Linked DNA regions of Homo sapiens: regions 2 and 3 are each linked to region 1. The links come from fine-mapping of genetic effects on gene expression. A gene starts in region 1. Each other region holds a variant in brackets. All regions are shown on one strand. Distances are between the middles of the regions.

Region 1 (10,989 bases):
GGCAGAGGTTGCAGTGAGCCAAGGTTACACCACTGCACTCTAGCCTGGGCAACAGAGTGAGACTCCATCTCAAAAACAAAACAAAACAAAACAATACTTACTTTGGGGAAACAACAGGTTTTGTTGGTTGGAGGTAATTGTGATTTTTTGGAGCTGGTACAAGAGGAGTTAGCCTGAAAGTGAAAAACAAATAACTAAAACAAGAACATTGGAAATTCGGAAACCCTTTTTAACACTCCCAGATTAAGTACATCCCTATAGTGACCCAAAATTGGAATGCATGATCTGATAGCTGGAATCTTTAAAATCTGAGGCCTTTAAAACTCAGGCCCAAGGCCCTGGCACTTGTTCACTGTCCCAGGAAGAGTTTGTCCCCCGATTCCCAAAGCTCTTTATCCCACATGAAGGCGGCAGCTGCCATCAGGGCCCTTTGGTTGGAAGCTGCACTTTGCCGTTGCACCAACACTGAGACTTCCTCATTTAAAATGGCACAAACCCCAGGCAGGGCTGGCAAGATGAGGGTGCAGCCAACCAGCTGGCAGGGAAGCTGGGGAAAGCGAGGCTTTCTGGCCCACCTGGGATTTTCCTGCCACACTTGCTGTTTTAGAAATCTTGTGAGAGAAATGAGGCTACAAATGGATCCCAAGGTCCCTGTGCCTACCCCATCCCAGATAATTCTTACTTGGAACTCCCTGTGGAGTTCTTGCGTGGTAGTTGAGGGGTCTTGATTAGCTTCCGTGGTCCCAAGTTCCAGGGGTCCCAGCAGGTGCAGTAGATGAGAGGGTTGGGGTACATGGCCAAAGGTCAGGGGGAGTCTTGGCTGCTAGATCAGGAGGCTCTTGCTGAAATTGAAAAACAACAGCAGAAGGTTAAACCATTTAGAATCAAAGCAAAAATACAGAAGAATTGGGAAGAACCCAGGGAGGACCCAAAGAACAATGGTAGATTCCAGAAGCTGTTGATCTGGTGCAGGGTCTTGACTATAGGTTAACAGCTCATCCCTTTCTACTCAGTAGACTTGACTTGAAAGCAATTTAAACTTTGCCATAACTGGCTGGGCATGGTGGCTCACGCCTGTAATCCCAGCACTTTGGGAGGCCGAGGTGGATGGATCACTTGAGGTCAGGAGTTTGAGACCAGCCTGGCCAACATGGTGAAACCCCGTCTCTACTGAAAATACAAAAATTAGCTGGGCATGGTGGCACACACCTATAGTCCCAGCTACTCAGGAGGCTGAGGTGGGAGGATTGCTTGAACCTGGGAGGCAGAGGTTGCAGTGAGCTGAGATTGTGCCACTGCACTCCAGCCTGGGTGAAGAGTGAGACTTCGTCTCAAAAAATAAAATAAGATACAAATAAAAATAAAACAAAATAATTAAAATAAAATAAAATTTGCCATAGCCGAGTCCTTGCTGTGAGCCAGGTAAAACTGCTCAATTATTGTTATGCTGATACTATAGATGAAGCTACTGAGACTCAGAGAAGTCACGGCGGCAGCAAGTTGCAGAGCTGGAAACAAACACAAATCTCTTTGACTCCCAAGCTCCTTCCTTTCCAGCAGGCCACACCAGTTCTCACTGAAGGGAAGAGAAATTCCCACAGCAAGTTCTGCACAGAACTTCCTGGAAAATTAGTTCTGCTGCTTGAGCTACAGTGCAAATGAATCTCCTCGTTTCTCATTCCTGGTCACCTTCTTGAATTACAGAGTGGAAACTCCTTCCCTGGCTCCCAAAAAACAAAACCCCTATTATGAGAATCTTGATGAAAGAAAACTATCAGATAAACATGGTGGCTTGACCACACTGGCTTATCTTCTTTCTTTTCCAGAATCCAACTAAAATTAGAGTACAGCATTAAAAGAGATTTAGTTCCACAAGAGCAAGAAAATGGGAGAGGAGACAAGATTGCACAAGGGATGTCCGTACATGTTTGGCATAGTAACTAGGGCTCTCTCCATAGCTCACTATAGCCTATGTGCCTGCAAAGACAGGGTATGAACAAGATGGAGCCAATTCACACATCAGAGGTCCCAGAGGGTGCAGGACTTGGAACTGGTAGATTACCTGATGATATTGACAGGCAGCTGGTAGATGTGTAGGAGCACATGGTAGGATGAATACTGTCCCTTTCCCTATACCGCATGTCCTAATCCCTGGAAAGTGTGACTATGTTACCTTACATGGCAAAAGCAGCTGTGATTAAATGAAAGATCTTGAGATAGAAAGATTAACCTGAATTATCAGTCAGAGAAGATGTGATAATGGAGGAAGAAGTAGGAGTGATTGAGGAAAAGGTCCAGGAGCCAAGGAATCGGGGCAGCATCTAGAAGCTGGAAAAGGCAAGGAAACGAATTCCCCCTGGAGCCTCCGGAAGGAATGCAGCTCTGCCGACCTCTTGATTTTAGCTCAGTGAGGCTCATTTTGGACTTTGACTTTCAGAATTGTAAGATTGTTGCTTGAGCCACTACATTTGTGGTAACTTTGTTACAGAGCAACCAGAACCAGAGCATTTGGGAGTGTGGGTGAGAGATTGGCAATAGAAACATAGAAACCTAAGAAAATAAAATGTGCAATTACTCCAGGTTAAAAAATATTGAATGAGAAAGTAAACATAATCATAGTATGGCACACACTCATATGTATCAAATGTAAATACTTAATAGTGACTTAGCCAAAAAGTGAACTGTGACTACATGGGAAGAATGAGTGGAATGGGGATGTATAAGAGCCAAATCCTCATCTGCTGTACCAGAAAGAAAAATTAACATACGGAGCACAGACAAATTACTTGGAAGTATGAGGTAAATAAAATTCCAAAGAAATAGATAGCAGAGTTGAAAATAATTGCCTCTAGGAGCACATTGAGAAGTAGAACTGACAGGTCAGGGGATGGGGCAGAAATTGAGACTTTTCCTTAATGAATTTTTAACATTAGTTGATTTTTAAATGATGTCAGTGGATATTTCTTTTCTCTTTTCTTCTTTTCTTTTCTTTTTTCTTTTCAGAGTCTCACTCTGTCACCCAGGCTGGAGTGCAGTGGCACAATCTTGGCTCACTACAACGTCTGCTTCCTGGGTTCAAGCGATTCTCCCGCCTCAGCCTCCTGTAGGTGTAGGCCTCCAGCCTCCTACAAGTGCCCACCACTATGCCTGGCTAAGTTTTGTATTTTTAGTAGAGACTGGGTTTCGCCATGTTGATCAGGCTGATCTTGCACTCCTGGTCTCAAGGGATTCTCCTGCCTCGGCCTCCCAAAGTGCTGGGATTACAGGCATGAGCCACTGTGCCCAGCCATGTCAGTGGATATTTCATTAGTAATAAAAACAAATGCCAAAAATGTTATAAGAATCAATGGCCTAACAGAAGCATTAAAGTGATAGCAGATTTAACTCAAATGTCTAAGTCTATGATTAGTTTTCAATATTACACTGGAATACATTTGCTTAAGAACCTGCTGAAAAAATGAAATCAACCTTTGTCTCCAACACGACTGATGCTTGAGAAACCCACTGATGGTGTCTAATGACCTTAAGAGCTACAGAGGACCTTAAGGTTGAATCTGTTTTACATATGAGGATACTAAAACTCACTCACTTGTAACTGCTGCTTTAACAGTACAAATCTTTAGAGGCTCGTGCTGTGAGTCCTGTGCTAGATGCTGGTTGGACCTTGCCCTCAGGGAGCTTGCAGTCAGCAGAGGAGTCGGCAGAAAGAGAGCTAAGTGAGCAGTGGAGCAAAGGCAAGAGACCTGGCCTTGGAAGAAAGGCAGCGTGTGCAGGGGTTGGCTGGGCCAGAGGCCTGGGACTAGGGAGTCTTCTGCAATAGAGGTCAGGGCTAGAAAGGAGTCCAGGGCTAGAAAGGAGTCCAGGAGACTGGCTAAACAGCAAAGGCCTGAAGAGCAGGTGACAGGGCCGCCATTTATAACTGTCCATACTCCACTGGGTTTGGGGGCCTGTTAGGGCCAAGTCAAGGAGATGAGGTCAGAGAAGCAGATGGGATCGAGTGCCCAGGTGGGAAGATGATGCTACAAGGGGCTGGAATTCAGGTGAGAGTCTGAAAGAAGGCTACAACAGTAGCAAAAAAGAAACTGCTTCTGCTTAGAACCTTGTATCTGCTTCCTGTACGAAAGGAGCCAACCCTGAACTTGGGAGATTTAGCAGGAGTCCATGGGGCAAGAAGTGAGAGGCTAAGGCAGGCCCACTTCTAGCAACTGCCTTCTCTCTTCTTGAAGGCCAGGACTCCACTATGGAGTGCTCTCTGTGCCTCAACACCTCCACTAAGCCTTGCAAAGTGGCTTGTCCACAACGGGCATTTGATGAATATTTCTTACCTGACTAGTAAACTTAGTGGTTGTAATCAGCTCATCATGGTGGTTGGGGCTAGCTCAACAAAGAGAAAAAGATGGTATGGTGGCTGATGCCTGTAATTCCAGCACTTTGGGAGGCCAAGGCGAGAGGATCACTTGACGCCAGGAGTTCGAGACCAGCCTAGCCAACAGGGCGAAACCCCGTCTCTACTAAAAACACAAAAATTAGCCAGGCATGGTGGCACATGCCTGTAATCCCAGCTACTCGGGAGGCTAAGGCAGGAGAATCACTTGAACCTGGGAGGTGGAGGTTGCAGTGAGCCGAGATCTCACCACTGCACTCCAGCCTGGATGACAGAACAAGACTCTGTCTCAATAAATAAATGAATAAAACAAAAAACAAAAACAAAGAGAAAAGAGATTCACAGATGAAACTGCCAAAATGTTGTAATCGTCATTACCATATTATAAATAACATTAAACATTTGCATTCAAAAGCCAGAAAGCAGAGGTAAATTGTATGGGTGATACAATCACTCAGTGGAGTTTTACATAGATTTTCAATGATCTTTGATGAATGTGTAGTTGTTTCCTTTTCCTCTTTCCCATGATAAACAATGTCTTGGTATATATTCTTTTGCTCTTAAGAAAAAAAAAAAAGAAGGCCTCACAGGTGTGGTGGCACATGTCTGTAATCCCAACACTTTGAGAGACTGAGGTGGGAGAGTCGCTTGAGGCTAGGAGTTTGAGACCAGCCTGGGAAACATATCGAGACTCTGTATCTACAAAAAATTTTAAAAATAGCCTAGTATGGTGGAGTGTGCCTGTAGTCCCAGCCACTTGGCAGGTGGTGCGGGAGGATCACTTGAGGCCAGGAGTTTGAAGTTGCAGTGAGCTAGGACCACACCACTGCATTTCAGCCTGGGTGACAGCACAAGACCCTGTCTCTAAAAAATAAATAAATAAATAAAATAAAAATAAAGGCCTTTTTCTTTGAACACCCATGGGAGTGATACTCAAAATATTTAACAACCAGTAAGACAAGGCTATTGAATAATCAACCAGGGTTGGAACAGGGTCCTGGGAGATCTCACTCCCACCTCCATGCCAGGCATTAACCCCTTAGTTGCTGAATCATGAGGTGGTCTGGGGGTGCCAGGGGAGGAGTTGGGACAACCAAGGTGGCAAGGAGGACATGCAAGGGGCTTGGACAATGGTCATCTACCAATCAATATGACAGTATTTTATTTATTATTATTATTGTTTTGAGACGGAGTTTTGCTCTTGTTGCCTAGGCTGGAGTGCAATGGTGTGGTCTTGGCTCACTGCAACCTCTACCTCCGAGGTTCAAGCGATTCTCCTGCCTCAGCTTCCCCAGTAGCTGGAATTACAGGCACCCGCCACCATGCCTGGCTAATTTTTGTATTTTTATAACGATGGGGTTTCACCATATTGGCCAGGCTGGTCTCAAACTCCTGACTTCAGGTGATCCACCCATCTCAGCCTCCCAAAGTGCTGGGATTACAGGTGTGAGCTACCGTGCCCTGCCTATATGGCAGTATTTTAATATTTCAGTAGCTAAAATCAGCCCTTGACTTCTCATAGCTTCTTAAGTGGGAACTACTTCTAACAGATTTTTGGGGCATCCTTCCAGAAATGTTGTGAGTGCATATAACCTTAAATGTTTTGCATATAGAACTTAACCTGTAGAGAAGCATAATAGATTTTTTAAATTATTTGCATAAGTGAGAGCATACTTTGCACACAATGTTGCATCTTGTTCTTTTTGTGTAACAGGATATCTAGTTGATATTTCCATGTCATCACAGATAGATCTGCATTTACAGTGGCTTGACATCATATAGCTCTAATTATAGAGGGGTGTGTGAGTGTGTGTAAGGATTTTTTCTCCCCCTTTTTTCCCTTTCCTGCACTTCTACCTGATGATTTTACCTGAGGCTTGCCCTAACAATAGTCACCAGTGAGCCGGCAGAGGCTTCAGAGAAGTTACTGGTTAGTATTAATAATCAGTAGAAAAAATAATATAAAACATCTTTTCCAAAGAGCTTACCTTGGACTGCCCAAAGATCTGTTATTCTCATGTGGCCCAAGTCAAACATCTTAAAGAAACCACCATGTTAGAGAGAAATGGTTCCCCATCAACACAGAATCAGAGTTTACTTTAGATCAAAAGCCACTTTAGTGGCCATTCCAAGTGGTTGAAATGCCGAAGGAGAAAATTCACAGTATATGTACTGCGGGAAGACAGACTTCTAGTGAATCCAATCAAAGGCTTTTACAAAGGCTGGCCTGGCACAAACATGAATTTCCCTTCTAAAGACAAAACAGTTGAAGTTTCTCAGTATTGCAATGAAATTAAACTAGAGGAGAAGGTCACCCCACCATTCAGATTCCTGTGACTTGGGCCTGAGTTGTGAGGTTTGCCCTTGGGAGATGGCAGGCCAAAGTTTGTTTATTTTGTTGCTATGGACACAGAACAGTAGCTCCTCATTGGCTCAGGGCTCTTTTCTTCAAGAGAGAAGGTTGGGAGAAACAGCCAATTAAATTCTCCAAGACACAAATCAGTGACCACCCTCAACAGCAAAGAATTCATACTTTTAACACTGGATTTCCACTTTCGTCATCAGTCATGGGACAAAAAAGTTTAAGATATATCTTCAGAGGAAATAGAATTCAACAGCACTTTTAGGCTTCATTGGTCTATGGCAATAGTTACCAGGCAGGATCTGTGATGGATTTTTAATTCCTCTGTGATCTACTCACAGAAACCTAAAACTCTAGACACTTTTTTCCCTCGAGTTTAAGGCTTTGAAATCTGTGAAAGTAAAAATCCCCCAAGGCAGGAATCTTTTGCAGTCACAAGGTTTTCCGATTTTTTTTTTTAAATAAAGCTGCTTTTTCTTACTATAGAAAAAAGTACTTGCTTATTACAACCCAGTGGCTTTCATTTTAGTTTTACTGCCACTCATTATAAGAAATACATTTTACAAATTTTGTAATAAAAAAATTTCATGAAATAATACTCTTATTATTTGCTATTCTCTTCTATTTCTTTTTCTTCTTTAAATTAAAGCTGATTATAATCCACTAGATTGATTTCATGATCCTGGTGGGTCACAACCCCTAGCTTACAAAATATTGTTATAAATTCATCTATTCACTCAACTTCACATTTGTTGTCTACTGTGTGCCAGGCACTATTGCTAGGTGTGGGGATATACCTCAGTTCTTATACTCAATACAACTTAGAGACCAATGAGAAAACAGACAATAAAAAAGCTCAATAAAAGCATAATTAATTTTTTTTTCCTTTGAGACAGTAGCTCACTCTGTTACCCAGGCTGCGGTGCAGTGGCAGTGGCAGTGCAGGCTGCATGCATAGCTCACTGCAGCCTTGACCTCCTGGACTCAAGCGATCCTTCTGCCTCAGACTCCCAAGTAGATGGGACTACACAGGTGCACAGCACCATGCCCAGCTAATTTTTTTTTTTTTTTTTTTTTTTGAGACGGAGTCTCGCTCTGTCACCCAGGCTGGAGTGCAGTGGCGGGATCTCGGCTCACTGCAAGCTCCGCCTCCCGGGTTCACGCCATTCTCCTGCCTCAGCCTCCCAAGTAGCTGGGACTACAGGCGCCCGCCACTACGCCCGGCTAATTTTTTTGTATTTTTAGTAGAGACGGGGTTTCACCGTTTTAGCCGGGATGGTCTCGATCTCCTGACCTCGTGATCCGCCCGCCTCGGCCTCCCAAAGTGCTGGGATTACAGGCGTGAGCCACTGCGCCCGGCCGCCCAGCTAATTTTTTTGACTTTTAGTATACATGAGGCCTTGCTATGTTGTCCAGGCTGGTCTTGTACTCCTGAATTCAAGTGATCCTCCTGCTTCGGCCTCCCAAAGTGCTGGGATTACAGGTGTAAGTCACCATGCAGCCACAATGACTCATATTGAGACTTGCCAGAAGCAGTGGGAGTTCATAGCAGGAGTTACTCTTCTAGTCCAGTGAGTCAGGCAGCAGTGTTAAACAGAGAAGAGATCTGACTAGATCTACATATCAGAAAGATCATTCTGACTGCAATATAGGGAAGCAATTGGAAGGGCCAGGAAAACCAGGTAAAAGTCTGTGGCAGTGGTCGTCATGGGACCTGACGATGGCCCTGACTGAGGAGCAGCAGTGGGGATGGAGAGAAGACATGATAGAACTTGGTGATTGACTGGATGCTGGGATGAGCGAAAAGGAGAAGGTGATGATTCCTGGCTTTCCAGCTCGAGCAATTGAGTTGACCGTGGTGCCATTTATTGAGATAGGAAAGTGTGGAGGGATAAACAGGTTCTAGGGAGCAGATTATTAGTTCAGTTTTGGATATGTTGAGGTGCAGGGAGACTAATAGACAAGTGGTGACGTCTGTTAGAGTTTCTTACATATTTTAGAAGTTCAGAGGAAGATTCTGGCCTAGAAGCAGATTTAGGAGTCTTCAGAGTGGATACTATTCCAAGCCAAGGGAGCGAGTGAGATCACATATAGAGAGAGTATTGTGTAAGGAGAGAAGAGGGTCTAGAACAGAGCTCTGAGGACACCAGTATTTACGACAAGATTTCTCAGTGTGGGCCATGTGTAGTTAAAATGCATAGACCTGTTGCTTGATTGCAAGTGGCTTACATCAAAGAGGTTTATTAACCTCATGAAATAGAGTCTGGAGGCAGTGCTATCAGAGTTGGTGCAAAGATTCAGCAATGTCCTTGGAGAACTGGGCTCTTTCCATCTCTCTGTTATGCCAGCCTCGGTGTGTTGATGGAGGGAAGCGTCTTGGTTGCACTATGGCTGCTTCAACTCTGAGCACCATGAACAGGCTAGATGAAGAGAGACTTTCAAAGATTAAAAGGAGGGAAATAACTTAGAGAAGAATTGATAGACTCTATTAGTCATCTAGACAATCTGTCTCCATCCAGAGATTGAATATTTACTTTGAGTGTGTTTAATGTGTAAAATTTTATATTTAAATCCTTTCTTATGATTAAAAAAAAAAAGCAGCAGGATTTGGGTCTTGAGTGAAGCATGGCTAAAAACAGAGATACAGAGGAAGTAAGTGCTGAAGGAATACCCCAGCCACTCGACTTGGCAAAGGCTCAGCACTAATTACTACTACTTGGGTATCCCCATTCTCCTTTCATCTTTTTGGACATGAGTAAAGCTTCGCCAGTTCCAAAACAGCTGAGGAGAAGGAAATGAAGGTGTTTAGGGGCTAAGTGTTAAGTGCTCTTCTCTTGGATGAAATTGGGGAAGTGCTGGCATTCTCAGTAACTTCGCCTAAAGCAAAGTGTCTTACTATTTGGAACAGAGGTGGAGGAGGCCACCAATAGTAAAACAAAGTATAAGTTGAAAAATGAATGAGAGAAACTGCAACTTAATTCTGACAGCAATATTATCAAAATTGGTCTGCACAGGGCTTGGGGAAATAGATATCCTCTTGTGTGATGCTGCAGCATTCACGAAGTGGCAAACATGGTCAGCTGGGAGCATTCGGAGGCTTTCCATCTGTGGAGCGCTATTTGTGGCTCTATGAGAACACTCCCAGTGTGGAAAAGACAGTGTTCTCTTAAGAAGCTTGTAATTATCTCCAACTTGCTCACTTGCTCAACTCTCTTTGATCTTTGGCTTTCAACATCTGACTTTAGAGTGGTGCTATGCTAACTCCCATGGATCATCCTGAATAGACCCGACCAGGTAGCCACAGGAATCCCGTGAAAGCCTGTAGTGCTACCCTTGCACCTAGAAAGAGGGGCCACTGTTCTGAGCCCTGGGCTTTAGAGGGCTCTGCATAGGACAGGCACACACAGAAACCTACATTTGTTCAAGAATACGTGGGCCCGGGCTGGGTGCAGTGGCTCATGCCTGTAATTCCAGCACTTTGAGAGGCCAAGGTGGGTGGATCAACTGAGGTCAGGAGTTTAAGAACAGCCTGGTCAACATGGTGAAACCCCGTCTCTACTAAAAATAAAAAAATTAGCTGGGTGTGGTGGTGCATGCTTGTAGTCCCAGCTACTCGGGAGGTTGAGGTGGAAGAATTGTACAAACCCAGGAGGCGGAGGTTGCAGTGAGCCAAGATCGTGCCACTGCATTCAAGCCTGGATGATAGAGCAAGACTCCATCTCAGAAGAGGAAGAAAACAAAAACAAAAACAAAAACACACGGGCCCTTGATCTGGAGCTCAGCTCTGAAACAGCAGGAACCATAACCCTAAAGATTCACTCTCATCATTAACCACATTCAGGTCTCAGGGAATGCTTCACCACATCTTTTACCCTTTACCTTCAAAACAAAAGATGACTGTGCCCAAATACTGTAAAGGTTTGTGGGTGATGCTGCTGCTGAGATCAGACACAGACACTGCTTTGGAGTGCAGGAAAGACTGGGGCAGCAGCAGTAAGGTAAGAGGAAAGGTAACCTGTCAAAACCTCTCAGATAGCATGAATGCAAGATTTGTGCATAATGAAATATATTTTCCAGTGGTGCTGAGCACCCATTTTTTGCTTCTTTTAATGCCTTAATTTGCAATTCCACAGGTATTCGCATACAGGAATGGTATTTGCAAGAGCTACATATGGTGGCTGAAGAACATTGTGCAATATGCATCCTGAGTACCCTTACATTTATATATATGTAGATCTAGATG
Region 2 (10,989 bases), 340 kb after region 1:
TGAGATGGATCTAAACCCAATGCCCAATCCTGGCACATAGGCATGGAGGATGTACCAATTTGGTAACAGCATATGAACCAAGGCACTTTTCCTCTAGTGCCTCTAAAATATAATAGCTGTTGGCTGATGTCAATGCTTTGCAGGCTTATGAAGCTGTATGAGTTTCTCTAGGAACGTACCTGGGGAACTCAAAGAGCTTAATCCCATGGGATGCTCCATTCTTCAAATAGAAAATGGAAATCATAATTTCTCTTTTAGAGTATCAGTTGATTAGCAATTTTAATGCTTGTTACAATAAAAAGTGCTAAGCGGAAAAAAATTCTGCTCTCTCTGCTGTGGTTTAGGCGTAGACCTGCTTTCAGAGGACATAAGACCTTTCAAGACTTTAGTCAGCCCCATTACCTACAGTCAAATGAAAACAAGCAGTTTACAAAGGTTTACCTCCATTCACTGGGATTTCAACTGAATAAAATATTATATATGTGCTTTTCCTGTGGACAACTGAGAACAATTTGAATTGTTGATTACTGGAATTGAGAGCAGAAGTTTTTTCTTTCTTTTTTGCTGTTTCTTTTAATATGGGATGGGCAATAAATAATAAAATGGATTATATTTATTCATTCATTCGACAAATATTTATTGAACACTACTGTGTGCTAGGAACTGTTTTAGGTGATGCAAAAACAGCAGTGGCTGACAAAAATCTCCATTCTCATGGAGTTTACATTCTAGGGAGGAGACACAGACAACAAATGAAATGTGTAAGTAAAATAGTTTTGTTTGATGGTGACAAGTGTTAAGAAGAAAAATAAACCAGGGAAGCTGGCTAGGAAGTGCTAGGAGGGAATACAATTTTAGATAGGTGACCAGGAAAAGCCTCACTGAGAAGGTGGCATTTGAGTGGAGACTGGAAGGAGATGAGGGACAGATCAGGTATATATCTGGGCAAGAGCATTGCTGACATAAGGAATGGCGAGTGCAAAGGGCCCCAGGCAGAAGCATGCCTGATGATTTGTTTTTTGGGTTTGTTTGTTTGTTTTTTGAGATAGTCTCACTCTGTCACCCAGGTTGGAGTGCAGTGGTGTGATCTCGGCTCACTGCAACCTCTACTTCCTGGGTTCAAGCAATTTTCGTGCCTCCCAAGTAGCTGGGATTACAGGCATGCACCACAACGCCCAGCTAATTTTTGTTGTTGTTGTATTTTTAGTGGAGATGGGGTTTCGCTATGTTGGCCAGGCTGGTCTTGAACTCCTGGGCTCAAGTGATCAGCCTGCCTCAGGCTCCCAAAGTGCTGGGATTATAGCCATGAGCTACTGCACCCAGCCTGATGAATTTAAACAATAACAAGGGGTCAATGTGGCTGGAACAGAGTGAATGGAGAAAGCATTGAGTGTGAAGTCAAAGAGGTAACAGCAGCTTGATTGTGTTCAGCTATGTAAGAACTTTGGTGTTTAGGCCAGGTGTGGTGGCTCACACCTGTAATCCCAGCACTTTGGGAGGCCAAGGTGGGCAGATAGCTTAGTGTCAGGAGTTTGAGACCAGCCTGGCCAAAATGGTGAAACCCCGTCTCTACCCAAAATACAGAAATTAGCCAGGTGTAGTGGGTTCCTGTTGTCCTAGCAACTCAGGAGGCTGAGGCACGAGAATTGCTTGAACCCAGGAGGCAGAGGTTGCAGTGAGCAGAGATCATGCCACTGCACTGTAGTCTGGGTGAAAGACCAGGACTCTGTATCAAAAACAAAAAAGCAAAACAAAAAAAGAGCTTTGGTGTTTACTCTGAGATGGGAAGTCATTTGAAGGGTTTGAGTGTTAGTGAGGAAGTGACATGATTTGACTTGCTTTCAAAGAGGGTATTTTTGGTTGCCGTGTTGAGAGTAGACTGTAGAGGAGCAAGAGTGGACACAGGAGACCAGATAGGAGGCAATTTTGCAACTATCTATGTAAGAGATGATGATGATGGTATGGGGTGGTGAGATCCTGGATATATTTTGGTGAGATCCTGGATATATTTTGAAAGTAGAGCTGAGAGGATTTGCTATCTGATTGGGTGTGAGGTATCAGAAAAAGAGAGTCGAAATGACCCCTAAGATTCTGGCCTGAGCACTGCAAGAACACAGGTATCGTTTCTGAGATAGAAAAGGCTTCCAGAAGAGTGGGTGGGGGTGATCGGCAGGTGGGGAAGATCGGGAGCTCAGTTTGGAACATGTGAACTTGGAGGAGTCCGTTAGACATCCAAGTGAGATGGAGAGGAGGCGGTTGGATATTTGAGACTGGAATTTAGGGAAATCTCCAGGCTAGAGATATAAATCCGAGAATTATTACTATAACATTACCCTGTTTATGAAGGGCAAATGGAGTACGAGACTTAGGAAAAAAGAAAGAAATGAACACACGCTAAAAATGACGTGGGTGGTGGTGGGGAGTGTTTTAATTTGGGGAGATACCCAGCCAATGTTCTTCCTTATATTAAAGTTCAATTAGAAACATTTATTAGATGCATAGTCATCAATAAAACTTTTCCTTAGAACCTTTAATTCATTTGAACTAGCAATGTGGGGAAAATGGCACCACATCAGAGCTCTACTATCCTGTGGAATAAAATCTCCTTACCTCATAGGATAACACCTGTGCATGTGGTGTGGCAGGAACTAGTTTCTTTTCTTTAAATTCCTGGAGGCAGTCATAAATCTGCAGAAGGACAAGGGAGGGAGAATTGATATTGATAATATGACTATTGCCATTTTGGATTTAAGACTCTCAAAGAGAAGAAACACCCCAGGCAACTGCACCAATGGCTGCACAGCACGGTGTGGTTGGTGTTTAGTAAGTTGTGTCTCTAGTTGCCAAAGAGAAATGAACTTGAGTTTGGTGGCCCCGATGCTTCAAAAGCTTAATTATTGGCTGCCATTGGGAAATTGATCTTCTCCAAGCATTTCAGTAATAAAAAGAAATTCAAACTTTTAATCTTGTTAAACAGAGTGAGGGTAGGGTGTCTGGGACTGAAACCAATGGGGATTTGTAGATGATGCATAAAGGAGCGTCTTAAAGGAGGGGCCCTTTAGGACCAGACACCTGTGAGGACCCCTGTGTTGGGCGCCTGTGCAGCATGTGAGCTGTGTGGCTCAGGGCCACTGAAGGTTCTGAATAAGTGGTGGGCATGCCACAAACGCTTCTCTGTACTCTGCTTTGTGCTTTGGGGCTGTTTCCCATTCCTCTCCTAATTCTCTAGTACAAGTTCATTTTTTAAAATTCCAACTTCATCTCCACATACCCTTGGGAATTTTTTTCCATACCAAGATCTAGGTTTGGGCTGAGGACACCAAAGCCTGCCTAGCTCTGCAATGCACCCCTTGATCTTATTTTAGGAATTGAGTTTCTCTTACAGACGAAGAAATAAGGCCCAAGGGGCCGGCTGAGCCCCCAGTCTTTTCTATCCAGATTAGTGATGATGCTGCTTCCCTGCTCTATCCCAGGGCCCGCATTCAGGTTTACCTGGAAGTGATGAAGGCTGATTGGATAACTCACCAAGGGCCTAGCAGTGGTGAGCAAAGGCAATGCCCATCATGAAATTAAAACTCCTATCTTAGCTGATCCTGTGGGAAAATGCCTGATAGAAATCAGGTGTTTTATAACAGGTGCTATGAGGAGTACTTCATTCATGCCAAAGATGTTGCCACTTTTATTGTATAATATTAACATGCACTATAAGACAGACCACATTTCACACTTAAGTGAAGGAAATACCCACATCCCAAAAAATAACTTCAAAAGGATCTCTCTTAATAATAACACTTGTTCAGAACAACAAAATTATAGTAGTGGCATCTACTAGATAGTAGATGCTATTTTTCTACTATCTATTAGACGCTATTGTATAGTGCATGGAATTTTAGCCAAATTAAAAAAGAATAAACTTTATTTATTCTATTTTATTTATTTATTTTGAGATGGAGTCTCTCTCTGTCACACAGGCTGGAGTGCAGTGGCTCAATCTTGGCTCACTACAACCTCTGCCTCCCAGGTTTAAGCAATTCTCGTGCCTCAGCCTCCAGAGTAGCTGAGATTACAGGTGCGTGCCACTGCATATGGCTAATTTTTTGTATTTTTAGTAGAGACAGGGTTTTGCCATGTTGGCCAGGCTGGTCTCAACCTCCTGACCTCAGGTGATCCACCAGCCTCGGCCTCCCAAAATGTTGGGATTACAGGCATGAACCATCACACTGGGCCAGAAGAAACTTTAGAATAAGAAACTTCAGGGTACCTAAACAGAACTGTAGATATTTTACTTTCTAACTTTAACAAACAAATAGGAATAACTTTTTAAAGCACTTTTATTTATCCAGGGTTGCTGCAAGGACAAACGGTTGTAGCCAGCTGATAAAGTGTTGCCAATGACCATCGTGGTGGCTGTTTTGTGATTCCAGGGGGCCTCTGGAAGAAAAAGAGCTGTGGGGAGAAAAGGAAGGGACTACCATATTCTCCTCCACCTAAGTTAATTCCTTCCTAAGCGAAGAAGTTTGTGTAGCTCTTCTCTGAGAGTTGCCTTCTAAGAACTTTTTCCAAGTTGAAATTTCCTACCAGTTGATAAATGACACCATTGGGTAAGTAGTTGCTATGATCTGAATGTGTACTTCCAAAATGCATATGTGATGATATTAAAAGGTAAGGCTAGCTGGGTGTGGTGGCTCATGCCTGTAATCCCAGCACTTTGGGAAGCTGAGCCGGACGGATCACCTGAGGTCAGGAGTTTGAGACCAGCCTGGCCAACATGGTGAAACCCCATCTCTATTAAAACTACAAAAATGAGCCAAGTGTGGTGGTGGGTGCCTGTAATCCCAGCTACTCAGGAGGCTGAGGCAGGAGAATCGCTTGAAGCTGGGAGGCGGAGGTTGCAGTGAGTTGAGATCAGGCCAGCGCATTCCAGCCTGGGCAACAGAGTGAGACTCTGTCTCAAAAAAAAAAAAAAAAAATAGGTAAGGTCTTTGGGAGCCGATAGGTCATCAGGGCTCTGCCCTCATGAATATGGAATTAATGCCCTTATACAAGAGACCCCAAGAGA[G/A]CTGGCTAGCCCCTTCCATTATGTGAGGACATAGCAAGAAGTTACCATTTAGGAACCAGAGAGGGAGCCCTCAAAAGACACTGAATCTGCTGCCGACTGGATTTTGGACTTCCTGGCCTACAGAACTGTGAGATATCAATTTCTGTTGTTTATAAACTATTCCACTATCCAGCCTGAATGGACTGAAGCTGTCATTTTCTACACACTCCCCACAACCCCTTCAGCAAGCAAAGGCTTCCGAGCAAAGAAGCACTCACCTTTAGCAGAGCCTGAAGCCACGGCGAGTGGAGGAGATCGTACAAGAGACACACTCCATTCACATCTCTGCCGTAGAACAGACTCAGCTCTTGCAGCACAAGCCTCAGGATCTGGGAGAGGCCTAGGAAAGGAAGAGAGCAGAGATGGGGTGGCAGGTGCGGGTGTAAATGTGAAAGGCAACTCAGATAGCTGGGGCATGCCATGGGGTCTCACCAGGAGTGGAAATGACACTGGATCTCAGGCCAAAAGATCTGACTTCAAGCCCTGTTCCACCTCTTACTTTGTGAACGTCACAAAGTCACATAGCTATCCGAAACCCAGTTTCTTTGCCCAAGATGAGAAGGTGCTAGCTTTGTCATAGTGTTGTTCTTAACACTGAGTAAAATAATAGATCGTGATGTGCAGATGTAAGATGTCATGAAAGGAAAATGATTGCTTTCCCCTCCCCCATCTTACCAGCCTGTCGTTTATCCCAAAATTATCTACTTGTGTTCTGTATCCTCTTTCTCTAACTCAAACATAAGAGTCATTTCATCCTCTCAAAAAATTCTTATTGAGAGTGATATTGAAAAATTCTAACTCCCAATAGATTTAATGCAAAGCTCAGTATTCTCCTGATTAAAGGGTCTCTAAACAGATTTTAGTGAATATTCTATTTTTTGACAGTATTTTCACAGTGTTGTAGTGATATTCTGAATGTGAACAACTTAAGAAGTTCTAAGTTTTACATAAAACATTGTCAGGTAAGGGAAAAAAAGGTTTTGAATCCATCATGTCCATTTATTTCCTTCCTGGCTTGAAATTTGTTCTTAAAGTTATCACTGGTAGGGCAGTAGTGCAACCAAAAATGTACAAGATCCTCATAGGGATCACAGTAAGTCTGTCAGGATTTCTGCCTATTCATTTGATCACATGTCAGAGGTGATATTACTTTCTGGTCTAGAAAAGGAGTCCTGGTGACACATACCATTCTGTGGATTGGTGGCTGTAGAAAGCTTCATGTCCTTCTTGTCTGGTGGATCTGCTCCTTTGTCTGACTGTATCATCCTCCCTGCCGGAGCTTCTGAAAGGAATTCAGGACTAGGAAGCGGGTCAATACACGGCACACAGCTCACTCAGTCCCACTGGCCACCAGCTCTCAGCACACTGGAATATATTTTCAATAGCATTTCCTCAGCAAGCCAGGCCCTGTGCTACACACTGGGATACACATCAAATGAAACACAGTCTTCCCCTGTGGTGCCTACTCTTAACCATCACCAGTGGCGTGAAAGAGAAAACGACTATTGCATAAAATGCTCCCCCTAACTCCATGTTTTAAACACATTTTTTAGCCTTTCAGAAGAATTGATTTCCTAGAAACCACACCTACCCACTTTTTAGAAGTAAATGACAAATACTATATTTATTTATCTTCCACCTCTTTACCCAGTTGACTTTACCCATCATTAGAGCTCAGAAAAGTCTTGCGTGGACCAGCTCCACTCAGGTGCCCCATTTCCTCTCATTGCACCTTATAGTTCTTCATAGAAGAACTAGCTGGTCTGGTCACAGTTGCAAGAATTATGGGTTATTACTGAGGCACACTCTTGGAATTTAGAGACAACACTGTAACGATCTGTTGTTTTGTTTTGTTTCTAGAGTGCTTTCCTGGCTCAATCCTACAATTTGTATAGAGTCTGGACAGTTTTCTTTTTCCCTTTTTTTTTTTTTTTTTTTTTTTTTGAGACAGGGTCTCACTCTGTTGCTTAGGCTGAAGTGTGGTGGCATGATCATGGCTCATGATCATGCACCCTCGACCTCTTAGGTTCAAATCATCCTGCTACCTCAGCCTCTTGAGTATCTGGGACCATAGGCATGTGCCACCACACTCGGCTAATTTTTAACTTCTTGTAGAGATGGGGTCTCACTATGTTGCCCAGGCTGGTCTCCAACTTCTGGGCAATCTTCCCACCTTGGCTTCTCTAAGCACTGGGATAATAGGTGTGAGCCATCGCACCTGGCCTAGACAGTTTTCTTAACCCTATCAGATTTAATACCAGTCTTTGAAAACTAGTTTGAAATGCTTATTTTAATGTTTATTTTTGGTATTGCTTTAGGTAGATTTAGTTTCAAGAAGTAGAAACCCAGAATAATTTTGGCTTAGCAGAGTAGTTTATATCTTGTTCGTGTGAAAGTTCAGAGACAGAGAGAATCCAGGGCTAATAGGGCAGCCTTGCTCCACGAAGTCCTCAGGGAATAGGTTCCTTCCGGCTACTGCTCTGTCACCCTAGGGTGTAGCATGGTTCTGTCTACCTGCTCCAAGATGGCAGCTGCAGCTCCAGTCATCACGCCTACATTTCGGCCAACAGGGTAGGGGAGGAAGGGATTAAGAAAACACGGGCAAAGAAAATATGCCTACTGCTCTTTAAGCAAAGTTTTCCACAAGTTGCCCTACACAGTGAAGAATCGCCTCATGCCCTGTATAGCTTTCAAATGTCCCACTGAACTATCATGTCACTGAAAAACAATAAAACCTGTAGTTATCTGAATCCAGACGCCAACTTTTCTTTACATATAAACACAAGACACTTTTGCACTGGTTTAATATACAATGGGGAGTAGGGTATTGAGGCAGGGAAGGTGAAAAAGCCAGTAATAGGTTGTCATCAAGAAGTAACCACTGTAGGCAACTAGAGCTTAATCCCACGGGGGAACAGGGGCCAAGGGAGTGAGAGTATTTACACACCAATGGCAACATGAGGGTTTTTATACACCAATGGCAACCTTGGTATATAAATACCCTCACTCTCTTGGCCCCTGTTAGAGCCAACAGGTTAAGAGCTCTTCCCAGAGAGCATTATTTCTGACTCTTCCAGCATGCAACATGTATACCTTCGGATAGGAAGTGGAGGGGCTAGCAGCTGGAGTGGGCTCAGAGTGCACCAAAATGGTAACAACCAAGGGGTATGCGGTGGGGGTAGGGACCAACAACATTGTTATAGTAGGACAATAAAGAATACATTAAGGTTTTTGTTATAAAAGGAACACTTCAAATTAGTTGTTAAAGACTGGAGTATTGACTCTGATAGGGTTGAGAACCACTGTCTAGAATCTAGACTGATTGTGGGTTGAAGCCAGGAAGGCTATCTAAAAGAAGAAAAGATCATTATTATTTTGACTCTAAATTCTAAGGCAGTGAGAAGAGCAACACAGAAAGCTGTTACAGCATTTTAGACAACTTTCCCCTACACATTCCTTTCCAAACACCCTGAAGTCTTCCGGTTTGCTAGGTTCTACCAAAGCTTGACATCGTTATGCTTTTGACTTGCCCTCCATCACCTACCTTGCCCACTTGTAATTGAGTCAGATTAAACAATGCGTTTTCCTGTGTTCTGTGTTGTTTTTGACTCTATTGAATCATTTAGCATCACAGCTGCATATCTGACTCATCTTCCTCCCTGGAGGGGAGCACTTCCAGGGTAGAAAATTGAAAAGGGAGATGGAGTGCCTGCTAGAGAGCAGACAAAAGTCAGAGCAGACAGATGAGGCTGACACTCAGGCTGACTCTTAAAATTGGTTCCCCTCCAGCACCTCACAAATCACACGTCCTTGGCAAAGCAGTGCAGATTAAACAAGCCAACTGTTGTTTGCACGTCATGAGGTGGACCACATTTCTGCCATATTTAATGCCCGAATGACTGTGCTGAGCTAGGCCTACCCATTCAGCAGTTGGGGGCACACACTAGAGACTACATATTTCTGAGATGAATTTATTGTGAGGGAGCTTTACAGATAGACTGTGCTTCACAGATAGGCGGTGGTTTCTTGAGTGAATGCAATGGTTAAAATAGCTTCTAATAAATCTAGAGCCAACTTCAGGGCTACCTAGATAACTAATTCATACATTCTAAAAGGCTCGTTTTGACCCAAAGTTTCTCAGCCATAGAGGCAAAAACAATAATTACAGTAATCTACAACTTATGCAAATTCTAAAAACTGTGCTTGGCTCCTCATCTTCAGGTTCCTATGACAAATTTATGGTGGACTGAATGTTGTGTCCCCACCCCCAATTCAGATGTTGAAGCCCTAATCCCCATTGTTGATGGCATTTGAAGATGGGGCCTTTGGGAGGTAACTGGGTTAAGGTCATGAGGTAGAGGCCTCAAGATGTCATTAGCGTCTGGGTAAGAGCCATCAGAGTTCATGTGTTCTCTCTCTCCCTGCCAGATGATGGCACAGTGAAAACGCGGCCATCTGAAAGCCAGGAAGAGAACCCTCGCAAGAACCCAACCATGCTGGCATCCCAATCTTCAACTTCCAGCCTCCAGAACTGTATGAGAAAATACATTTCTGTTGTTTAAGCCACTGTCTATGGTACTTTGTTATGACAGCCAAAGCTAAGACAAAACTCATAGAAAAAAACTTCCAGAAAATGATTTTCCCTCCCTCCAGGTAGCTAAGAAAACAGTTGCAACTTCTTGCCCTCATAGCACTTCTCATTTTCCCAGTTCTTGTATCCACTGGCTTGCTCAGTGTCTGTCTCCCGCAGGTGTCATGTCTGCAGAGGGCCTGGGGAGCAGAGATGTTGCTTATCTTGTTCATGCTGCAGCTTCACCTGCAACAGTGCTTGGGCCATAGCAAGCACTTGGTATGTTCAGTTGTTGTTGGGAAGGGGTAGAACAAGGAGAGGCCAAGATCCAGAAGTAAAAGGCTGATACCTCCCTCAAGGCAGTAGCCAGCAGCTGGGACTTCAATCCTAATGGGGGAGGCAGCTGAACTCCAGAGGCCTGTGCCCTCCCTTCCTTTCCTCCCTGGCCTGGTATCCTGACTTAAACCTCTTTCCCTATCAAACTTTAAAACTGGGGGCAGAAGCGGATCTTAGAGATAATCAAATGCAAAACCTTTGTTTTACAGATAAGGAATCTGACATTCAAGGAGGTATTCAGTAGAGTTAACATGTAGTAAAATCGAGTTTTCCTCTTTTGTTTCCTTAGTCCTGAAAGATGCTGATGCCTGGCATGATGCCTGGCAAAAGACTTACCTTCCTTTCCATGACTTCTGTACCAAATTTGTCAGTTGAAGCTTATCTATTTCTGCTATCTTGAGAGTGAGAATTCTTGATTGAGACTGCAAATAAGTAAGCACCCACCACATGCAATTCCGGACTGAGTACACAGAAAGGATAGCCAGTTCTTGACTCAGAAGATGCATTAGTGTGACTGATGCCTAAGGAATTTGTCCTAAATCTTGTTTTAAAAGTATTTCCATTAGCTTTTTAAAACGTACTATTAAATGCCACAACCCCCTACCCTTACTATGCTTGTTTTTCAAAATAGTGCTTTTTACTAGACAAACCCTAAAAAAGCACTTGGAAACTTAATGATGAGAAATGGCCCTTACAAAAATAGCTGGCTTCCTCTGGGTCCAAATGCTGTTGATTAGGACCAGGGCAAATGCCCATTGTACTCAATCTTCCTGACAACTCATTATTCCATACTGAAGAAATGGCTTCTCGAAGCAAAACCTGCTCTTTCAAGATCATAAAATTCCCCATATCATTTGAGTTAAAATGAAACTAAGCCATTTGAGTTAGATTACCCAGATTTATATCTTTAGCTATTAAAAACTGACAGGCAAGCTAGGCAGTTATGGATACATCTTCTGGTAACTGAGGATTATTTGCCAAGGTC
Region 3 (10,989 bases), 34 kb before region 1:
TTAGAAATGAAAAGGGAGATATTACAACTGACACCACAGAAATACAAGAGATCATTCAAGGCTACTGTGAACACCTTTACGTGCATAAACTAGAAAACCTAGAGGAGACAGATAAATTCCTGGAAAGATACAACCCTCCTAGCTTAAATCAGGAAGAATTAGATACCCCGAACAGACCAATAACAAGCAGTGAGATTGGAATGATAATTAAAAAATTACCTACACAAAAAAGTCCAGGACTAGATGGATTCACAGCAGAACTCTACCAGACATTCAAAGAAGGATTGGTACCAATCCTATTAACACTATTCCACAAGATAAAGAGGGAATCCTCCCTAAATCATTGTATGAAGCCAGTATCACCCTAATACTAAAAACAGGAAAAGACATAACCAAAAAAGAAAACTACAGACCAATATCCTTGATGAACATAGATGCAAAAATCCTTAACAAAATACTGGCTAACTGAATCCAACAACATATCAAAAAGATAATCCACCATAATCAAGTGGGTTTCATACCAGGGATATAGGCTTAACATACTCAAGTCAATAAATGTGATACACAACATAAAAAGAATTAAAAATAAAAATCACATGATCATTTCAATAGATGCGGAAAAAGCATTTGACAAAATCCAGCATGCTTTATGATTAAAACTCTCAGCAAAACTAGCATACAAGGGCCATACCTCAATGTAATAAAAGCCATCTATGACAAACCCACAGCCAAAATCATACTGAATGGGGAAAAGTTGGAAGCATTCCCACTGAGGACTGGAACATGACAAGGATGCCCACTCTCACCACTCCTCTTCAACATAGTACTGGAAGTCCTAGCCAGAGCAATCAGACAAGAGAGAGAAATAAAGGGCACCCAAATCAGTAAAGAGGAAGTCAAACTATTGCTGTTTGCTGATGATATAATTGTATACCTACAAAACCCTAAAGATTCCTCCAAAAAGCTCCTAGAACTGATAAAAGAATTCAGTAAAGTTTCCAGATACAAAATTAATGTGCACAAATCAGTAGCTCTGCTATACACTGACAGCGACTAAGGTGAAAATCAAATCAAGAACTCAACCCCTTTTACAATAGCTGCAAAAGAAAAATAAAATGTTTGGACTATACCTAACCAAGGAGTTGTAAGACCTGTACAAGGAAAACTATAAAACACTGCTAAAGAAATCATAGATGACACAAACAAATGGAAACACATCCCATGCTCACTGATGGGTAGAATCAATATTGTGAAAAAGATCATACTGCCAAAAGCAATCTACAAATTTAATGCAATTCCCATCAAAATACCACCATCGTTTTTCACAGAACTAGAAAAAAAACTCCTTAAATCCATATGGAACCAAAAAAGAACCCACATAGCCAAAGCAAGACTAAGCAAAACAAAACAAAGCAAAACAAGCAAACAAAAAATCAAAAAGCAAAAAACCTAACAAATCTGGAGGCATCACATTACCTGATTTCAAACTATATTATATGGCCATAGTCACCAAAACACCATGGTACTGGTATAAATATAGGCACATAGACCAATGGAACAGAACAGTGAACTCAGAAATAAACCCAAATACTTACAGCCAACTGATCTTTGACTAAGCAAACACAAATATAAAGTGGGGAAAGCACATCTTATTCAACAAATGGTGCTGGGATAATTGGCTAGCCACATGTAGGAGAATGAAACTGGATCCTCATCTCTCATCTTACACAAAAATAAACTCAAGATGGATCAAGGACTTAAATCTAAGACCTGAAAATATAAAAATTCTAGAAGATAACATCAGAAAAACCCTTCTAGACATTGGCTTAGGCAAGGATTTCATTACCAAGAACACAAAAGCAAATGTAATAAAAACAAAGATAAATGGCTGGGACTTAATTAAACTAAAGAGCTTTTGCATGGCAAAAAGAACAGTCATCAGAGCAAACAGACAACCCACAGAGTGGGAGAAAATCTTCACAATCTATACATCTGACAAAGGACTAATATCCAGAATCTACAACAAACTAAAACAAATTAGCAAGAAAAAACAAATAACCCATCAAAAAGTGGGCTAAGGACATGAATAGACAATTCTCAAAAGAAGATATACAAATGGCCAACAAACATATGAAAAAGTGCTCAACATCACTAATGATCAGGGAAATGCAAATCAAAACCACAATGAGATACCACCTTACTCCTACAAGAATGGCCATAATCAAAAAATAAAAAAAAAATACATGTTGGCATGGATGTGGTGAACAGAGAACACTTCTACACTGCTGGTGGGAATGTAAACTAGTACAACTGCTATGGAAAACAGCATAGAGATTCTTTAAAGAACTAAAAGTAGAACTACCATTTGATTCAGAAATTCCATATATATATGATAGAATACTACTCAGTCATAAAAAGTAATGAATTAATGGCATCAACACAACTTGGATGAGATTGGAGACTTATTCTAAGTGAAGTAACTCAGGAATGGAAAACCAAACATCGTATGTTCTCACTCATAAGTGGAAGCTAAGCTATGAGGATGCAAAGGCATAAGAATAACACAATGGATTTTGGGGACTCAGGGGGAAAGAGTGGGAAGGGGGTGAGGGATAAAAGACTACAAATTGAGTGCAGTGTATACTGCTCGGGTGATGGGCACACCAAAATCTCACAAATCACCACTAAAGTACTTACTCATGTAACCAAACACCTCCTGTTTCCTAATAACCCATAGAAATAAAAAAATTTAAAAAAATATAAGGCTACAGTAACCAAAACAGCTTGGTACTGATACAAAAACAGACACATAGATCAATGGAACAGAATAGCAAACTCAGAAATAAAGCTGCACACCTACATCCATCTGATCTTCAACAAAGTAGACAAAAACAAGTGGTGGGGAAGGAGTTCCCTATTCAATAAATGATGCTGGGATAGCTGGCTAGCCATATGCAGAAAAATAAAACTGGGCCCCTACCTTTCACCATATACAAAAATCAACCCAAGATGCCTTAAAGATTTAAACATAAGAACTCAAACTCTAAGAATCCTAGAAGAAAACCTAGGAAACACCATTCTGAACACTGGCCTTGGGAAAGAATTTATGACTAAGTCCTCAAAAGCAACTGCAACAAAAACAAAAATTGACAAGTGGGACCTAATTAAACTAAAGAGCTTCTGCACAGCAAAAAAACCCGTCAACAAAGTAAACAGGCAACCTACAAAAAAAGAGAAAATATTCACAAACTACGCATCTGACAAATATCTAATATCCAGAATCTATAAGTAACTTAAACAATTGAACAAGCAAAAAACAACCCCATTAAAAAGTGGGCAAAAGACATGAACAGACACTTCTCAAAAGAAGACAGAAGTTTGTTTGTGTTTTTCCAAAATGGCAGATTAGAGGCATTGCTAGCATACTTCTCCCACTTGGAAAAACAAAATAGTTGTAGAGATTCACACTGAACTTTTTTCAAGGAGCAATGCAGAAACTGAACAGGAAAACCAAAGGAATCTACAGACCCTTTGAAGGAAGCAGGAGGCTGCAGGTTACACTGTGAATCAGGCAAAGGGCTGTGAGTTCCCAGAGTGTGAGAAGGGGGACTCACCCTACATTACTCCTGGAATACACACCCCCACTGTGGACCCTGAAAGTCCAGACCATGGGAGAAAGCCCTAACCCTATGCAGCACAGGAACTGACTTGGGGAGGGATGTGGAATATAAAAGTGGGAGCAGTGGCAGGAAGATTCTTGCACACACTCCCAGATTTCAGCATGGAGAGAGGGAAGCCATTTCTTACTGTTCCTCACGGGGAACCCTGTGGAGGACAGCCAAAAAGTTCAGGCAGTGGTCGCAGGTTGAAAGAAGCCTCCAACTGGGTTTCATGATATAACCTTAGGTGCGGATGAACTCCCTTGGCCAGGGCCAGGGTGGAGGAGAGTGAAAAGTGGGCTGCAGCCATGAGTGCAGGAGCTGCCAGTGCAGGAACTGGGTGCCTGGCTTTGCAGTGGACAGGGAGGGGCTTGGCCTGAAAGCCGTGATTGCT[A/G]TCTCTGCAGGGAACGTATATGACTCGGGACAGTTGCAAGTTCTGAGTGCAGGCTAACTGGAACTTAGCTTGCTGCTGCCAGTGGAACACTGTGGGAGTGCATCTGTCTTGCCAAGTGCATGGGATCTGTGTGGGGCTCACAGCCACCTGCTTCTCCTCACTCTGCACAAACCCTTCTGTGTGGCAAAGCCAGCAACACTGCCTTTTGGAACATCAACCCAGTGGCCTGAGAACCACTCCCATCCCCTGGCTTCCACAGGGGCTGCTGCTTGCCCTGCACAGGGAGACTCAGAGCGCAAGCCCACCTGAACCAACCCTCACCCTGCTTTGCCCCGTCACCTGCCCTGGTAGTTTAACACAAAGGACAGAAACTCTTGGGGGCTATATAGCCCCACTCATTGCCTGAGAAACCAGAGTAACCCCTCTGGACAACATAAAGCAAGCAAAAGTCCTATTGCTACTATTGCAGCTGGTTCCCTTTTGTAAGCATCACCTCTTGGCTGGAGGCCAACCAACACAGTCCATTACAGCATCTCCTGGTAGAATAACAACGCACCTAGGAAGAAGATGGCTGTGTAATCTCAGCTATCACCACTGCCTGCACCATTCTGGCTAACCAGGAGGTCCTGAGTTTGTCCACATGACCAGTTCATTACTACTAAAACCAGTGTTCGAGAAAGCCAACACACTAAGGCTATCAATAACCAAGGACTCTCACAGAGTCTATTACCCTGCCACGCCCATTAGAACTGGTGCTGCTACCCACTGTTGGGAGACTTGAAGAGAGGTCACATCACTGGATCCCTTGCAGATATTCCCTAGCACCAGCCTGGGGTGTGGTACCTTCACTGGACAGCTAGACCCAGAGACCCTGTTCCCTTAGGAGTGGGATCCCCCTGATCCTAGGGGAACAGGGAGTGCACCACATCAAGAGAACACCCTGTGGGAGAAAATAATCCAGACAGCAGGACTTAAGAACCAGATCTTTCTGCTAGTGGGAAGTTTCTTTCAGCAGAGGCACAGTTGCAGTGCTGGGCTCAGCAGGAAAAGTCTTCAGCTCTAACCCAACAGACAGACAACCCCCCCACCCATTGTCTACCACTGCAGGCACAGTTGGAGCTTCTCCCATTGGAGCTTGGTGTGAGTGCAACTATAGACAGTCTTTCTGGAAGACATCAGGGTGACTGCATCCCCATAGGAGGGGCACCCTCTAGGTTCAAGCTTGTATGAGAGACGTTCACAATTTTTCTCTATTTGGAACATCAAAATTCCTGCAGATGAAAAGAGGTGGCTGTCTGGAGATGAAAAGCTGGAGCACTGAAACAGGAGTGTGTTTGAGAGGGATAACTTTCCTGCTAACCTGGCAGGGGAGCTGAGGTGGCTCCAACCCTTACCCCAGGTAAGACCTCATTGCAACTCACTCCTCCAGCCACCTCTGTCAAGGCTGAGACCTCTGCCCATCACTGGGTATTGCATTTACCCACCTGCTTTAGCCACAGCTGATTCCTACCCAGGGACACCTCCCCTACTGGCCTGAAGCTGGAACCATCAAACTAGTAAATAAAACACTGGAGAAAAGGCCGGGTGCAGTGGCTCATGCCTGTAATCCCAAAACTTTGGGAGGCTGAGGCGGGTGGATCACTTGAGGTCAGGGGTTCGAGACCAGCCCGGCCAATATGGTGAAACCCTGTCTCTACTAAAAATACAAAAATTAGTTGGGTGTGGTGGCAGGCACCTGTAATCCCAGCTACTTGGGAGGCTGAGGCACAAGAATCACTTGAACCCAGGAGGCGGAGATTGCAGTGAGATCATGACACTGCACTCCAGCCTGGGCAACAGAGTGAGATTCAGCCTCAAAAAAAAAAAAGAAAAAAAAAACTGGACGAAAATGCGTAAATAAAAAAGGGCATGCCACAGGGGAATGAGATAAGCTTTAAGAGACCTCTTATCATTACAGCCCCATAGGAGACAGTGATCTTGCTAATATACCAAGCACATTGCTACTACAACCAGCATCTAAGAAAGCCACATAAAAAAACTCTCTATAACCAAGGAACTATTACAGAGTCTTCACCCCTGAAAGCACCAAAAACCAAATTAGGCCATAATATGATAAGCATTAAAGTCACATCCTTAAGTGGAAAAAAGAAATTAAAAAACAAACACAAAAAGAAACACAGTCAAATCAAACATCAATTCAAGGATAATTAGAAGAAATAATCTACCCAAATGAGGAGGAACCAGAAAAGGAACTCTGGTAATATGAAAAAACAGGGTTCTATAACACCCTCAAAAGATAACACTAGCTCTCCAGCAATGGATCCAAAGTAGGACGAACTCTTTAAAATACCAGATAAGGAATTCAGAAGGTCAATTATTAAGCTACTCAAGGAGATTTCAGAGAAAGATGAAAACTATTATAAATTTAAAAAGCATTTCAGGATATGAATGAAAAATTTTCTAGAGATATAGATATTATCAAGAAAAAACAATAAGAATTTCTAGAAATGAAAGACACACTTAGGGAATACAAAATGCAGCAGAAAGCTTTAACAATAGACTAGAACAAGTAGAAGAAAGAATTTCAGAGCTTGAAGACAAGGTTTTTAAACTAACCCAATCAGACAAAAATAAAGAAAAAAGAATAAAAAGAAATGAACAAAGTCTTCAAGAAATATGGGATTATGTTAAACAGCCAAACCTAAGAATAACTGGTGTTCCAGAGGAAGAAGAGAAAATAACAAGTCTGGAAAACTTATTTCAGGGAATAATTGAGGAAAACCTTTCTGGCGTGGCTAGAGATCTAGATATCCAAATCCAAGAAGCTCAAAGAACTCCTGGGAAATTAATTGCAAAAAGATCTTCACCAAGGCATATAGTCATCAGGCTATCTAAACTCAACATGAAGGAAATAATTCTAAGAGCAGTAAGACAAAAGCATCAGGTAAGCTATAAAGGAAAACCTATCTGAATAACAGCAGACTTCTCAGCAGAAACCTTACAAGCCAGAAGGTATTGGGGTCTTATCTTCAATCTCCTTAAACAGAAAAAAACTGTCAGCCAAGAATTCTGTATCCTGTAAAGCTAGGTTTTGTAATTGAAGGAGAAATAAAAGTCATTTTCAGATAAACAAATGCTGAGGGAATTTGTCACTAGCAAACCAAACTACAAGAAATGCTACCAGCCTGGCCACATGGCAAAACCCTGTCTTTACTAAAAAATACAAAAATTAGCCAGGTGTGATTGTGCATGCTTGTAATCTCAGCTACTTGGGAGGCTGAGGCATGAGAATCTCTTGAACCCAGGAGACAGAGTTTGCAGTGAGCCAAGATTGCAACATTGCACTCCAGCCTGGGCAACAGAGCCAGACTCTATCAAAAAAAAAAAAAAAAAAAGTAAGGAAGGAAGGAAGGAAAGAAAAGAAAGAAAGGTGGGCTAAAAGGAGTTTTAAACATTGAAACAAAAGCCAAATACGCACCAAAATAGAATCTCTTGAAAGCTTAAAACTCATGAAGTCTATAAAGCAATAACAGAATGAAAAAAGAAAAGCTATATACATAACAATTAACATGATGAAGAGAAGAGTACTTCACATCTCAATATTAATGTTGAATGTAAATGGCCTAAACGCTCCACTTAAAAAATACAGAATGACAGAATGGATAACAAAAATCACAATCCAAATATCTGCTGTCTTCAAGAGACTCACCTAACATGAAAGGATTCAAATAAACTCAAGGGAAAAGGGTGGAAAAAGATATTCCATGCAAATGGACACCAAAAGCAAGCAGGAGTAGCTATTCTTATATCAGACGAAACAAACTTCAAAGCAACAACAGTAAGACAAGACAAAGATGGTCAATATAATGATAAAAGGATCAATCCAACAAGAAGATATTACAATCCTAAATTTACATGCATCTAACACTGGAGCTTGCAGATTCATAAAACAATTACTACTAGACCTAAGAAATGAGATAGACAGCAACACAGTAATGGTGGGATACTTTAATATACCACTGACAGCACTAGACAAGTCTTTGAGACAGAAGGCCAACAGAGAAAAAATGGACTTAAATGACATGCTAAAACAAATGAACATAACAGCTATTTACAGAACATTCTACCCAAGAACTGTAGAATGTATGTTCTTCTCATTGGTACATAGAACAGTCTCTAAGATAGGCCATATGATAGGTCACAAAACAAGTCTCAATTAATTTTTAAAAATTGAAATCCTATGAAGTATCTTCTCAGGCCATAGCAGAATAAAACTAAAAATCAATTTCAAAGGGAATCCTCAAAACTATACAGATACATGGAAATAAAATAATCCATTCCTGAATGATATCTGGGGTAAACAGTGAAATCAAGATGGAAATTTAAAAAATTTTTGAATTGAATCATAATGACACAAGTTATCAAAACCTCTGGGATAGGTGGGGTTCGGTGGCTCATGCCTGTAATTCTAGCACTTTGGGAGGCCAAACAGGTGGATCACTTGAGGCCAGGAGTTTGAGACCAGGCTGGCCAACATGGTGAAACCCCATCTTTACTAAAAATACAAAAATTAGCTGGGTGTGGTAACAGGCGCCTGTAGTCTCAGTCTCAGCTACTTGGGAGGCTGAGGTGCGAGAATTGCTTGAACTTGGGAGGCAGAGCTTGCAGTGAGCCAAGATAGTGCCACCGCACTCCAGCCTGGTTGACAGAGTGAGACTGTCTCAAAAAACTAAAAACTAAAAAAACCTCTGGGATACAGCAAAAGCAGTGCTAGGAAAGTTTATAGTGCTAAACGCCTGCATCAAAAAGTCTGAAAGAGCACAAATTGACAATGTCACACTGCAAGGAACTGGAGAAACAAAAAAAACGAAGTCCAAAGATAGAAGAAAAGAAATAATGAACATCAGAGCAGAACTAACTGAAATTCAAACAAAAAATATAAAAAGATCAATGAAACAAAAAGCTGGTTCTTTGAAAAAATAAAATAGACTAGATTAGCCAAGAAAAGAAGAAAAGATTAAACAAGTAAAGAAGAGAAGATCTAAATAAGCTCAATTAGAAATGAAATTGGAGACATTACAACCCACAGAACCACAGAGATACAAAAGATCACTTGAGGCTACTATGAACGCCTTTTTGCATACAAACTGGAAAACCTAGAGGAAATAGACAAATTCCTGGAAACGTACAACTCTCCTGTATTAAATCAGGAAGAAACAGAAACCCTGAACAGGTGAATAACAAGCAGCAAGATTGAATCAGTAATTTCAAAATTGCCAAGAACAACAAAAAAAGCCCAGGACTAGATGGATTCACAGCTGAATTCCACCAGATGTTCAATGAAGAATTGGTACAATCCTACTGAAACAATTCCGAAAGATTGAGAAAGAGGGAATCCTCTCTAAATCATTCTATGCAGCCAGTATCGCCCTGATATCCAAATCAGGAAAGAACACAACAAATAAAAAAAACTACAGACCAATTTCACTGATGTTGAACATAGATGCAAAAATCCTCAACAAAATACTAGCTAACCGACCCCAATAGCACATCAAAAAGATAATTCAAGTGGATTTTGTCCCAGGGAGGCAGGGATGGTTTAACACACACAAGTCAATAAATGTGATACATCACATAAACAGAATTGAAAACAAAAAACACATGATCATCTCAATAGATTCAGAAAAAGCATTTAATAAAATCCAGCATCCTTCATAATTAAAACTCCTAACAAACTAGGCATAGAAGGGACCTACCTCAATAATAAAAGCCATATGTGACAAACCCACAGCCAACATCATACTGAATGGAAAAAAGTTGAAAGCATTCCCCTTGAGAACCGGAACAAGACAAGATGGCCACCTTCACTTTCACCACTCTCATTCAACATAGTTCTGGAAGTCCTAGCTAGAGCAATTAGACAGGAGAAAGAAATAAAGGGCGTCCAAATTGGAAAAGAAGAAGTCAAACTATTGCTGTTTGAAGATTATATAATTGTATACCTAGAAAATCCTAAAGACTCCTCCAAAGACTCTAAGATTTGATAAACGAATTCAGTGAAGTCTCAGTTTACAAAATCAGTGTACACATATCAGTAGCACTGCTATACGCTAACAACGACCAAGCTGAGAATCAAAAAAAGAACTGATACCCTTTTACAACAGCTACAAAAAAATAAAATACTTAGGAATGTACTTAACCAAGGAGGTGAAAGATCTCTACAAGGAGAACTATAAAACACAGCTGAAAGAAGTAATAGGTTATACAAACAAATGGAAATGCATTCTATGCTCATGGATTGGAAGAATCAACGTTGTGAAAATGACCATACTGCCCAAAGTAATCTTGCATTACAGATCCAGTGCAATTCCCATCAAAATATCAACATTATTTTTCACAGAATTAGAAAAAAAGTTCTAAAATTCATATGGAACCAAAAAAGAGCCAGAATAGCCAAAGCAATACTAAGCAAAAAGAACAAATCTGGAGGTATCACATTACTAGACTTCAGATTATACTACAAGGCTATAGTTACCAAAACAGCATGGTACTGGTATAAAAGTAGGCACATAGGCCAAGGAAACAGAACAGAAAACCCAGAAATGAAGCCAAATATGTATAGCCAACTTATCTTTGACAAAGCAAACAAAAACATAAATTGGGGAATGATACTTTATTTAATAAGTGGTGCTGGGAGAATGGGCAAGCCACATGTAGAAAAATGAAACTGGATCCATATTTCTCACCTTATACAAAAATCAACTCAAGATGGATCAAAGACTTAAATATGAGACCCGAAACTATAAAAATTCTAGAAGACATTAGAAAAACTCTTCCAGTCATTGGCTTAGGCAAATAATTCATGACTAAGACCCCAAAAGCAAATGCAACAAAACCAAAAATAAATAAATAGAACCTAATTAAACTAAAAAGCTT

The links.
Region 2: its variant is fine-mapped to the expression of FLACC1 in substantia nigra (GTEx, PIP 0.96).
Region 3: its variant is fine-mapped to the expression of FLACC1 in whole blood (TOPMed, PIP above 0.99). The same link has a PIP of 0.9 or more in esophagus muscle, gastroesophageal junction, ileum, substantia nigra and transverse colon.

Annotation. Positions count from the first base shown.
Region 1 is chr2:201,350,610-201,361,598 of GRCh38, forward strand. It overlaps FLACC1 (flagellum associated containing coiled-coil domains 1), which reads right to left and starts at 6,736. Exons shown (of 15, transcript NM_001127391.3): 1 at 6,373-6,736; 2 at 683-842; 3 at 102-173. The coding sequence starts at 795.
Region 2 is chr2:201,687,592-201,698,580 of GRCh38, forward strand. It overlaps MPP4 (MAGUK p55 scaffold protein 4), which reads right to left. Exons shown (of 22, transcript NM_033066.3): 2 at 6,285-6,463; 3 at 5,317-5,438; 4 at 2,611-2,688. The coding sequence starts at 6,363. Among named protein-coding and RNA genes, the nearest start is that of MPP4, 5.6 kb to the right of the region's middle. The variant G/A (reference allele first, on the strand shown) is at 5,060.
Region 3 is chr2:201,316,356-201,327,344 of GRCh38, forward strand. All of the region lies in intron 9 of FLACC1 (flagellum associated containing coiled-coil domains 1), which reads right to left. Among named protein-coding and RNA genes, the nearest start is that of FLACC1, 35 kb to the right of the region's middle. RefSeq lists enhancers at 3,605-4,106, 4,107-4,606. The variant A/G (reference allele first, on the strand shown) is at 4,054.